Homo sapiens: one gene and its partner. The gene in region 1 interacts genetically with each later gene. Each region holds a gene or a part of one and is shown on either strand. Other genes may lie near its edges.

Evidence for each region. Genes that interact genetically often act in the same process or in processes that back each other up.
Region 2: of SH2D3A (region 1) and MAPK8, changing one enhances a phenotype caused by changing the other (phenotypic enhancement), as found in Homo sapiens cells (one study listed by BioGRID).

The regions. Positions count from the first base shown.
Region 1 is NC_000019.10:6,764,415-6,772,182, reverse strand, and holds the start of SH2D3A (SH2 domain-containing protein 3A), read left to right. Parts: upstream 1-4,747; 5' UTR 4,748-4,796; intron 4,797-7,768.
Region 2 is NC_000010.11:48,435,645-48,439,860, reverse strand, and holds the end of MAPK8 (mitogen-activated protein kinase 8), read right to left. Parts: 3' UTR 501-4,216; downstream 1-500. UniProt on the Homo sapiens protein: Serine/threonine-protein kinase involved in various processes such as cell proliferation, differentiation, migration, transformation and programmed cell death.

The DNA of each region.
Region 1 (7,768 bases):
GCCCTCCCCACTCCCTCTCTCCCCCTCTTCACTGTGCTCCAGCCACACGGGCCTCTTCGCTCTTCCTCCAACATGCCAGGAACATACGGCCCTGCCCCAGGGCCTTTGCACGGGCTGTGTCCTCCACCTTAAGCAACTTCATGGCTAGCTCCCTCACCCCTACATGTCTTTGCTCAAATGCTACCTTCTCATGAGGTCTTCCTAAATCCCCTCATTTCAAATCACAGCCTTTTCCGCATTCCATTAGCTCTACCCACCTCCCTAGGTTAAGCCCTGATCTTTGTCCAACAAATCTGATTTTTTAAGTTATTTTTTTCCTTCCTTCCTTTCTCTCCCTCTTTCCCTCCCTTCCTTTCTTCCTTCCTTCCTTCCTTCCTTCCTTCCTTCCTTTCTTTCTTTCCTTTCTTTCTCTCTTTGTTTCTTTCTTCTTTTTTTTTTTTTGAGACGGAGTCTCACTCTGTCACCCAGGCTGGAGTGCGGTGGCGCAATCTCAGTTCACTGCAAGCTCCGCTTCCCGGGTTCACGCCATTCTCCTGCCTCAGCCTCCTGAGTAGCTGGGACTACAGGCGTCCGCCACCGCGTCTGGCTAATTTTTTGTATTTTTAGTAGAGACAGGGTTTCATCGTGGTCTCGATCTCCCGATCTCATGATCCGCCCGCCTCAGCCTCCCAAAGTGCTGGGATTACAGGCGTGAGCCACCGCGCCAGGCTTCTTTCTTCTTTTTTTTTCTTTTGAGACGGAGTTTCACTCTCGTTGCCCAGGCTAGAGTGCAGTGGTGTGATCAGCTCACCACAACCTCTGCCTCCTGGGTTCAAGCGATTCTCCTGTCTCAGCTTCCCAAGTAGCTGAGATTACGGGCATGCATCACCACGCCCAGCTAATTTTGTATTTTTAGTAGAGACAGGGTTTCTCCATGTTGGTCAGGCTGGTCTCGAACTCCTGACCTCAGGTGATCCACCTGCCTCAGCCTCCCAAAGTGCTGGGATTACAGGCGTGAGCCACCGCGCCCGGCTTTTTTTTTTTTTTTTTTTTTTTTTTTTTGACAGGGTCTCATTCTGTCACCCAGGCTGGAGTGCAGTGGCATGATCTCAGCTCACTGCAAGCTCTGCCTCCCAGGTTTTCCCTGACCTCAGCCTCCCAGGCAGCTGGGATTACTGGCACCTGCCACCATGCCCAGGTAATTTTTGTATTTTCACAGAGACAGGGTTTCAGCATGTTGGCCAGGCTGGTCTCAAACTCCTGACCTCAAGTGATCTGCCCGCCTTGGTCTTCCAAAGTGCTGGGATTACAGGCTTGAGTCACTGTGCCCAGGCTCTTTCTTCTGTCATCCAGGCTGGAGTTCAGTGGCATGATCATAGCTCACTGCAGCCTCAAACTCCTGGGCTCAAGTGATCCTCCCGCCTCAGCCTCCCAAGTAGCTGGAACTACAGGCTTGTGCCACTGTGCCTGGCTAATTTTAAATTTTTTTGCAGAGAGGGGCTTTTACTATGTTGCCCAGGCTGGTCTTGAACTCCTGGCCTCAAGCAATCCTCCCACCTCGGCTTCCCAAAGTACTGGGATTACAGACGTGGGCCATGGCACCCGCTCATCATTGTTTCTTTATTGTCTGTTCAAGAATTTATGTTTCTTTGGTTCACTACTGACCCCTCTCTTATGCAGCACCTGACACATAGGCATGCCCCTTAAATACCTGTTGAATGAATAAATAATTGAAAGCTCTATTGACTGCACCTGACATTTATCCCAAATCCATCCCTTTATCACCATGTCCATGGTCACCACCCAAATCCAAGCCACCATCATCCCTCTCCTTATAGACTACAATAGTGTCTTTTTTTTTTTTTTTTTTTGTCTTGCTCTATGGACCAGGCTGGAGTGTAGTGGCGCAATCTCGGCTCATTGCAACCTCTGCCTCCCAGATTCAAGTGATTCTCCTGCCTCAGCCTCCCGAGTAGCTGGGATTATAGGTGTCACCATGCGTGGCTAAATTTTTGTATTTTCAGTAGAGACAGGGTTTCGCCATGTGGCCCAGGCTGGTCTCAAACTCCTGGCCTCAAGTGATCCACCTGCCTCAGCCTCCCAAAGTGCTGGGATTACAGGCACGAGCCACTGTGCCAGGCCCAATAGTGTCTTTCATTAACTCATTCAACAAACATTTACTGGCTTCCCGGCCATTACCTTATCATTAGCTGAAATCATCTTCATGAGATTAGGTCTCTCTGCCCCCATCCCTAGCTTCCACCCCAGTAGAGTGTAAGCAGGCCCTCCCCCGTCCACCTAATACGTGGCCCTCATCATGGAGTTTCTTTTTAAATTATCGTTATTATTATTCTTAGGAGAAAGTTTCACTCTGGTTGCCCAGGCTAGAGTGCAATGGTGCAATCTCTGCCCACAGCAACCTCTGCCTCCCAGGTTCAAGTGATTCTCCTTCCTCAGCCTCCCTAGTAGCCGGGATTACAGGTGCATGCCACCACACACAGCTAATCTGCTCACAGCAACCTCCGCCTCCCAGGTTCAAGTGATTCTCCTTCCTCAGCCTCCCCAGTAGCTGGGATTACAGGTGCATTCCACCACACCCAGCTAATTTTGTATTTAGTGGAGACAGGGTTTCACCATGTTGGTCAGGCTGGTCTGGAACTCCTGACCTCAGGTGATCTGCCCACCTCGGCCTCCCAAAGTGCTGGGCCCTCTTTTTAAATTATTATAACCACGAGGAGGCGCTAGACCCCTTCCCTGAACATGCCCCTACCCTCTGACTGTACCAATACCAGACCGGTGAGGGATAAGGAAGAAACTTTCTTCCCCTCTTGAGCCTGGAGTCTCTTCCATATTTGCCAGGGCCAGTCGGGGGAGCCCAGTCTGGAAATTCCCTGCTTTGCAACCTACAGGCATCAAAACTTTTCATCCCCAAGCATCGTTGGCCCTCTAGGCCTCAATTTCCTCATCTGTAAAATGGTGGGTGAGTAACTTTCACCGCAAAGCAGCATCGTGGAGAAAGTGGGCATGCGAAGATTGAAAAGGAGGCAGACAGGATAAAGCTCCAGAGCTCCGGGTTTGAATTTCGCCTCTACCACTTACAAGCCAGGTTAACTTGGGCAAATGGTTTAGTTGCCCTGTGCCTCAGTTTCTCCATCTGGAAAATGGAAGTGATGAAAATACTACCTACCACCCTTACAGGGTGGTCTGTTTGAAAATTAAAATAGAGGCCTCATGCCTGTAACCCCAGCACTTTGGGAGGCCGAGGCAGGTGGATCACATGAGGTCAGGAGTTTGAGACCAGTCTGGCCGAGACCCCATCTCTACTAAAAATACAAAAATTAGCCTGTAATCCCAGCTACTCGGGAGTCTACAGCCGGAGAATCGCTTGAACCGGGGAGGTGGAGGTTGCAGTGAGCTGAGACTGCTGCCACTGCACTCCAGTCTGGGCAACGAGAGTGAAACTCCATCTCAAAAAATAAAATAAAATAAAATAAAGGCAAGTTGACAGAACAGCCCTTGTGTACAGTAAGTGCTCAATAAATGTTAGCTGCTGCTACTGCTTTTAAGACTGTGGTTACTGGGGCCAAGCACAGTGGTTCATGCTTGCTTGTAATCTCAGCGCTCTGGGAGGCCAAGGCAGGAAGTTCGCATGAGCCCAGGAGTTCCAGAGCCTGGGCAGCATAGTAAGACGCCACATCTACAAAAAATAAAATAAAATCAGCTGGGTGTGGTGGTGTGCACCTTTAGTCTCAGCTGCTTGGAAGGCTGAAGCGGGAGGATAGCTTAAGCCCAGGAGGTTGAGGCTACAGTGAGCTATGATCACCACTGCACTCCGGCCTGGGCAATATAGCAAGACCCTGTCTCTACAAGACAAGACTGATGTTAATATGAGGAACTCATCAATAAACGTGGCCAAAGAGTCCTCTCTCTTGCACTAGGTCCCTGTCACCTTTTCTCTTGTTCGTCTCCAGGCATCACGATGGAAGTCCCCCCCACCCTTCTTCCCACCTGGGAAACCACCTGAATGATTTGCCTTCCACCTCCACCAAAGTCCCGCCCCGCTCCAGCGTGCTGTCACTGAAGGAAGCTGTCGCGTTTTCCCGGACGTCTCTCCACAAAACCCGCCACCTAAATGGGGCTTCTTTCCGGAAAATCCGGGAGGGCGGTCTGGAGGAAGCGTACCCCTCCTTACGTCACAGCTGCCGCAGCTACCCCAGCCTGGCGTAAGAGCCCGAGGGAGTTGCCCTGCCCTGACCCGGAGCCTTGGCGGGGAGGGGAGAGAGGCACCCCACTCCACCCCGCCCTGGTCCCAAAGGGCCATGGGTGCTTGGGGCCGCCTGGGTGGAAGGGAGGGGCAGGGTTCTAAGGGGCGGGAACGTTGGGATGAAATTTCTTCTATTGCCCTAAGGGGCGGGGCTGAGAAGGAGGTGGCTGCGGGTGGGCGTAGTCATTCGGCGGTGGTCGTGGCTATATACAAGGGGAGGGGCCACTGGCAGGAAAGGATGCGTGGTGCTCCCCTAGTGGGCGGGGTCTATGGAGAAAGCGGTGCGATGCAGAAGGAGGCGTGGCTAGTAGCAAAAAAAATGGTTTTAAGGGGGCGGAGCAAGGGCCTGGGAAGTTAGTTTGAGGCGGGGCCCGCAGGGGGCGGGGTCTGCAGGAGGTGTGGTCAGGTAACTGGGCTGAGTTCCCACTAGGTGTGGTCTGGGAAGGCTGGGGCGGTGGCAAGGTGGAGGGCGGGGGTGACAGCAGCCCGGAGCCGCGGAGCCTCAGCTTCCGCCTGGACCCAGCCTCGTGGGAGCCCCGCGGGTCCTGCCCAGGTGAGTGGAGCCCCAGGGCAGATCCAGAACCAGGATTATTGGGATGGGGAGTCCTCTCTTTCCAGGTGGGGTCACCGGCTCGCAGGGAGGATCTGGGGTAGAAGAGGTCGCCTCGCGAATGAGAGGGTCGCTGTGCGTTACGCGTGTCGGTGTGCTCGGGCTCACCTGGGCGTGCCTCTCTAAGTGTATTTCCTGTGCAGCACAGAAAGCCATTGTTTCCATTTTTGCCTGAGTGATCCTCTTAAACGGCGAATCAGATCGGGCCCCTCCTTCACTTAAAACCCTTGGGTCATAGAGATTAAAATTCAAAGTCCACTAGTTTTTGCCTAGTCTCTCCTCCTGATCTCTCCAACCTCATTGCCCTCCTATCTACTCCTTCCTCATCGTATTCCGGCTACACCAGCCGCCTTGATGATGTAAAATGTAAAAAGCAAGTCCATCTCAGCTCCAGGCCTTTACCCTTACTGTACCCCTCACCCAGGCGACTCCTCCAAATCTTTGCCTAACTGCCTCCTTCTGTACTGAGGTCTCAGTTCCAATGTCACTTTATAGGAGAGGCTGTCCTGTCCAGCCTCCTCTATCACATCTCCCTGGCTTATCACTTTCATTGATAACTCTTAGAAATGGTCTGTCTTCTCCATTCATCTTGTGCTCGTTTGCAGTCTGTCTTGCGCAGCCGACTGCAAGCTCTGGAGGGCAGGGTGGTGCCGAGCTTTAATCTCCTTAGTCACTGTATCTCTAGGTCCTAGAACAGAGCCTGGTGCACAGCAAGTGCTCCAGCAATGGTCGTCCAACGTCAAAAGCGAGTCCTGCCTACATCTGTGTTTGTGTTGCCTGTGCTGGTGGTTCCCACCCTCCACGTCCTCCCCACACGTGGACACATGTTTATGATCCAACTGGAACATGAATAATCCCCTCTCTCCTCTCTCTATGCTTGGTCTGATTCCTGATTCTGCCCGTTTCTTCTCTTCCGTGCCCGAATAAATGATCCCAAAGGACTCAGAGGCAGGAGATGGCTTAGTTGGCCTTTGGCTGACCTATGGCCACCCTGTGTCCTCAAACTAACCAGAACCTTGCCATTGACTCAACTTCACTCTCACTAAGGGAGACACAAGACAGGAACTTGGGGTTGGGAAACTCTGCGACCGAGGCTAGCCCTGGTCCAGGTGACAAACAGGAAGTGCGCAGGCATTGCAAAGACACACCTGGCTTCAGGTATGCGGCACTGGCAGCTGGCTCCCTGCCCAGCGCTCCTCCCCTAAAGCCACCTAGGGCTGGTCTGGGAACTTCCTGCTGACTCAGGAGGCAGGAATTTCTCTGCAGACCCCACCAGAAGACTTTGCAGGGCTGCAGGGAGAGCTTGCAGGAGAGTAAGAAGCAGATTATCTTCTTCTGGACCATCCAGAGAAATCTCCCCCACCAGACACCTGAGACACACTGGCCCTGAGGCCTGTGAGATTATCGGGAAACTACCAAAATGTCTGAGATCCAAATTCAATCATCATGATAACCACATGTATGGGCTCCGAAATAGAAGGATCTGCAAAGGCAACATTGCTGTTTGCTGACATTGCTACAAAATGTGACCTTTTAAAAATCTTAACCCTGGGGTTACATTCTTTTTTTTTTTTTTTTTTTTGAGACGGAGTCTTGCTCTGTCACCCAGGCTGGAGTGCAGTGGTGTGATCTCGGTTCACTGCAGGGTCTGCCTCCTGGATTCAAGCGATTCTCTCTCCTCAGCCTCCTGAGTAGCTGGGACTACAGGCACACGCCACCATGCCTGGCTAATTTTTGTATTTTTAGTAGAGACGGGGTTTCACTGTGTTGACCAGGCTGGTCTCAAACTCCTGACCTCAGATGATCCACCCACCTCTGCCTCCCAAAGTGCTAGGATTACAAGAGTGAGCCACCGCGCCTGGCCCCCAGCGTTGCATTCTAAAGCAAAGAATAGGGGTTAGATCTGCACCTATCCTGAGAACCTCTGAGTGTGCGCATAGGTTGCCGAGAAGCCATGGATGTTTGTAAGTTAAATTCCCCCTGACTGGGATGTTTTTTCACCCAGAGTCACCTGGCACACTCCCCAGAATTCCTTCCAGACTTTACTCAATGAGACCTTTCCTGGTCACATGATCAAAAATGTTCACCCAGCCTGGGCAACGTGGCAAGACCCAATCTCTACATATATATTTAAAAATTAGCCAGGCACAGCCAGACGCAGTGGCTCATGCTGGTAATCCCAGTGCTTTGGGAGGCTGAGGAGGGTGGATCACCTGAGGTCAGGAGTTCGAGACCAGCCTGGCCAACATGGAGAAACCCCATCTCTATTAAAAATATTTTAAAAATTAGCCAGGCATGGTGGCACACACCTGTAGTCCCAGCTACTGAGGAGGCCGATGCACGAGAATTGCTTGAAACCAGCAGGCGGAAGTTGCAATGAACTGAGATCATGCCACTGCACTCCAGCCTGGGCAACAGAGTGAGACTTGATCTCAAAAAAAAAAAAAAAAAAAAAAATTAGCCAGGTACAGTGGCCCACGCTCATAGTCCCAGCTACTCAGAAGGATGAGGTGGGAGAATCACTTGAGCCCAGGAGGTCAAGGCCGCAATGAGCTGTGATTGCACCACTGCAGTCCAGCCTGGGCAATAAAGCAAGACTCTGTCTCAAAAAAAAAAGAGTGTTCACCCTAGCACCTGTACTTTCATTATATCCCATCCATGGTTTAGTTTTTTTGTCTAGCACTCACTCATGTATGCCATCATCTAGTTCTTTTCTGAGGTGCTGCTCCCCAGTAGAATGTCAGCTCCCAAGGACAGAGATTTCCATCTGTTTTGTTCAATGCTATGTCTCTAGGGCCTAGAACAGAGCCTGGGACCCCATAAGGTGCTGAATAAATAGGGGTTCAGTGAATTCATTAATTACATTTCTGCAAGATGGGGTGGCATGTTGTCATCTTCAGCCATTTTTTTTTTCT
Region 2 (4,216 bases), on another chromosome or scaffold:
AGGTCATTTGGAGCAGGAACTGTGCAAGACGGAGTGGCGTCATTACAGTGGCTGGGAAGGTACTGCAGGGACCCTGTATTCCCACACAGCAGCAGACCCAACGTAGGCAAAGAGGAAATAAGCATGGCAAAAGTTGGAAACAGTCAAAGCTAAAACCTCTTGCTTGTTTTGAAACAGACCCCAATTTTAAGTACTTATTTTTGCCAAGTGGTCACGATGGCTGTTCTCTCATATGTCTACCAAGAACTAGGTTAAGGGCATTGAAGCAAAGTTCCTTTTTTAGATAAAGTTTATCCAGCAATTTCAAACACCAGAAATCCAAGACCAGATCAACCAGATAATCAGCGTGATCATTTAGGCTCTTTACAATCTGTACAAAATCCAAATCTAAGAAACCGGCCCTAGCAAGACCCCTTTTATCCCAATCCACGGACAATCCTAAAATTGCCAAGAAAAACTTTACCACAAACAGATTTTGTTTTCAATGAAAAAACTCTTAATTTCATAATTTTCATACCACTTTTTTCTTTTTTATTTAAAATATTATAACCAATTGACATACTAGATAACATTGTTTACATTCCAGTGGTGCATGTTTAATGACTAGGGCATGAATGATGAAAAACCACAATAATGATCTCAGCATTCCCTAAAAAGTGCCCCATTTTGTTTTGTCTAGAGGAAAGGAGAGGGAACGGAACACAGGGAAGGAGAGGAATGGAGGAGGAATGACATCGCAGAGGGAGAAAAGCAAATGTCAGCTATCATACTCAGGTTTCCAGGTGTGACACCCTGCTGACCAGGATAAACTGTAATGAGAAAATAGATGTCACAGTCCAGGGAGACACGTAATTCAGTCTAACTTCATTATTCAGCTAAAAGATTAACAGCTTCTCAAAAATATACCAAATATTGGGCCTACAAAAGTAATTTATTTCTTCGTAAAATTTTTACTAAGATTTACTCCTTTTGTAAAATGTAAATGGACCGATATCACGAGCAGGTTTCTACTTACAAAAACAGTAATAATGTCAACGAGCACAATTTTGCAAGACATACAGTCAAAGATTTTACACGTGTCTCTTACTGATGTAAGGTATATACTTTACATACTTACTGGTATTGTGTCAACATTGGCTAGAAAGTATTTAACACACATTTATAATTCACTCAGTAAAGATCTAACAGGGCAACAGCTTACTTGGGAAAGCATAGAAAATTAGTGTGAGGTAGTTCAATAAAAACCTAGTTTAATTTGTAAGTCATTATGAGAATAGAACATTGTGCAAAATTAATCCACAGGTAATATTTCTCAAAAGTTTCAGTAACGAAGAGAATCTAAACTAGAAATGGCCAGAAAGTGTTACTGTTACTAGACTCTCCTTAAGAGCACTTAACGAAGAGCAGTCAGTTTGAAATTAGGACTTCTGTTTTCCTTACGAGTTTTCTAATCGTACCCCAAACTATACATTTCTGCTTCAATGCCCTTTACCTCTTCATCTTTCTTGCTATTAAGGAAAAATTAGTTTCCTTTGATTCCGTAAAAACCTAAGAGAGATCAGTAGAAACACAATGCACACAAAAATGCAACAGGATACGGAGAGGCAACATTTAAGAGGGCTGCTAATGACAGAATGGTGTTTGGTTTACCTACTGGTAAGAGAAGTTTACTGGTGTCATGGGGCTTCATGCATCCACTCTATAGCTAATGTGTAACTAATGAACAACACTCACAAACTACAACAGTATTTCTGAAAATATTCTATGTTCTAACCTCAAAATGTTGTGCAGGCGAATGCCTAGGCAACACTGAATAGTTAAGTCTTCATATGTTTAGCAGATACTGGCCAATAGTGTAAACCAAGTCTTATCTGTAACCAAGGAAAGAGCTTCACTTTCCTGCTGATGATTTCACTATCAGACACTGATGTCCTCTTCCCTCCATCTTTTAGACAACACAGCAGGATTAGCATAGAACAGAACAATGACAAGGCTGGCAGGATGCTTCTTTGCACACCATCAAGCTTCTTTGGATTGTTAAGGGGGTTGTGTGTAGGCTTCTGATTTAAGAGGCTGGTGTTTCTCTTAGAAGTCTGGCATGAACACACTGTGCCTTTACCAACTCGGAAGAGTGCACGTCAGGAACAATTAGCAGCCAAAGGTGCATGACACTGAAAACTGTTCAGCAAACACTATGACAGAGTTGAGATGCTCTATCTGCGTATAGTATAACTAAGTGATCCCAACAACACAATGGTTTTACAAATGGCCAGTATATATTAGAGGGAAGAGAATAGTAACCAGGAAGACATTGGTACAGAATTAGCATCTCTTTCTGAATCTATGAAGATAATAAAAATCTTGGTCAAAATAACTTTCTGATAGTAAGACAGTGAGTATATTAAGTATATAAAATTGAAAAATCAAAATTATAGAATAAGAAAGGTGGTTTCATACAAGTACTACCTGATAGAAATGTTATTTGTAACTTCTCTTCAAAAAAAAAATGTTTAAGATGCTTAAAGGATTCCAAAATAAAAAGAACCAACATATATTTAGCTTAACAAATTTAAGACGAAAACTGTATTTGGATGTAGTAATTTAAAACCTAGGGCATGCAACATTTAACAAAGAGACCTTGTTTTTAGGATATAATTTGTTAAGTATTTTAGTTTACACTAAGTAATGAGAGTTTGTTTTCTTTGAATTGAACTGAACATGATGGTTGGCAAGTGGCAGCTGGCATTTACAATAAATGATACAGACACACACCTGGTTTTCCTTACTTAACCAAAATCTGTATCAATAGAGATGGCTTATCAGCAATCAAACATAAAATATGAGAACCTTCTGAAAGCATGTCTGCTGTGAAAGTGCAACAGTGACATAATCTATGCTACAGAAAATACAGCTAATTGTGAAATTAATATAAACACACTCATTCTCAAATTTCTGCTGAAATTGTGAATCCAATATTTTCTGTCTACAATTCAAGAAGTGTCTTAGAACTCTAATTTGCCTAATCAAATTAATGCACCTTGTTGTATTAGAAAAGGGACTGATAAAAAGGCTGGGAAGCTGGAAATCATGACTCTAAGCCATCGAAAACAAACTTGCTACTTCAAAGTATATAAAAAAGCTAATGTATTTTAATCTTAAATATTGCACATTAACAGTGATGTAAAATATCTCACTCAAAAATAATTTTGCACTAAATATATGAATAAAATGCCAAGCAAATTTTCAGACATTGCATGTTGAGCCGCACCTGTTCTTGCTCCTGTTGGTCACAAATTCCAAGGGGCTTTCTGCCTAGAACCTTGTTGCTTATGTGAGTATGCATTTCCTAGTTCATTACATGAAATCCCTCTTGTTCCAGAGATAATTTAAAAGGTGCCTGGGTCTATTACAGACAACGTATTTCAGAAATAACGAGACTTCAAAGACATTTTACTTAGGAAAAGTTCAGTAATAGAGAAATAATTCTACAGATAGAAAATGTAAACAGTTAACATACACTTGTCAGGAGCAGCACCATTCTTAACACTACTCGACATCCACATTGCGTGTTATGTTGAAAATCAGGTATAAAAAAATAAAAGACTTAGACTAAATAACCACCATTTATGCCTGCTCTGCTCAATGTGAAGAAACAGTCCTTAGAAAATGATATCCTATATATGGCTGTGTGCTACTATTTTCAGATGAACGGTATATTGCTCATTTGATACATCACCTACACAAATCTAGGTAGGGTTTGGAACCTCCCAATAGCTCGTATAAATGATTATGCTACAAGTAGAATCAAATGAAACACCAGAACAACTGGTGCTCAACTGACAGACACTCCAAGTAATAGGAAACAGGAAAGGTCCAAGGACCCGAAGCTGCAGGAAAGGGAAAGACCAGACTCTAGAACATTGCTGGGACCTACAGCCTGAGTAGATTAACTCAGTGTATACAAAAACAGGCTCATAGCTAGTAGAAGTGAACCATCTGTTTATTTGCATTGAAATGTATTATTCATGAAGTATCCTCTTGCCTTTATGTGATCATAAACTTTGAGCATGCCACAAATTTGTAGAATACACCATATTCTTTTTACTTATTTTTGTTGGGTAGGGTGGGGACATAAGGTGGTGGTAGACGCCCAGCATCTTCAAAGACATGCTCTGAGTTATTCTGCCATTTAGATGACGGGGCTTTTGCCAAAATT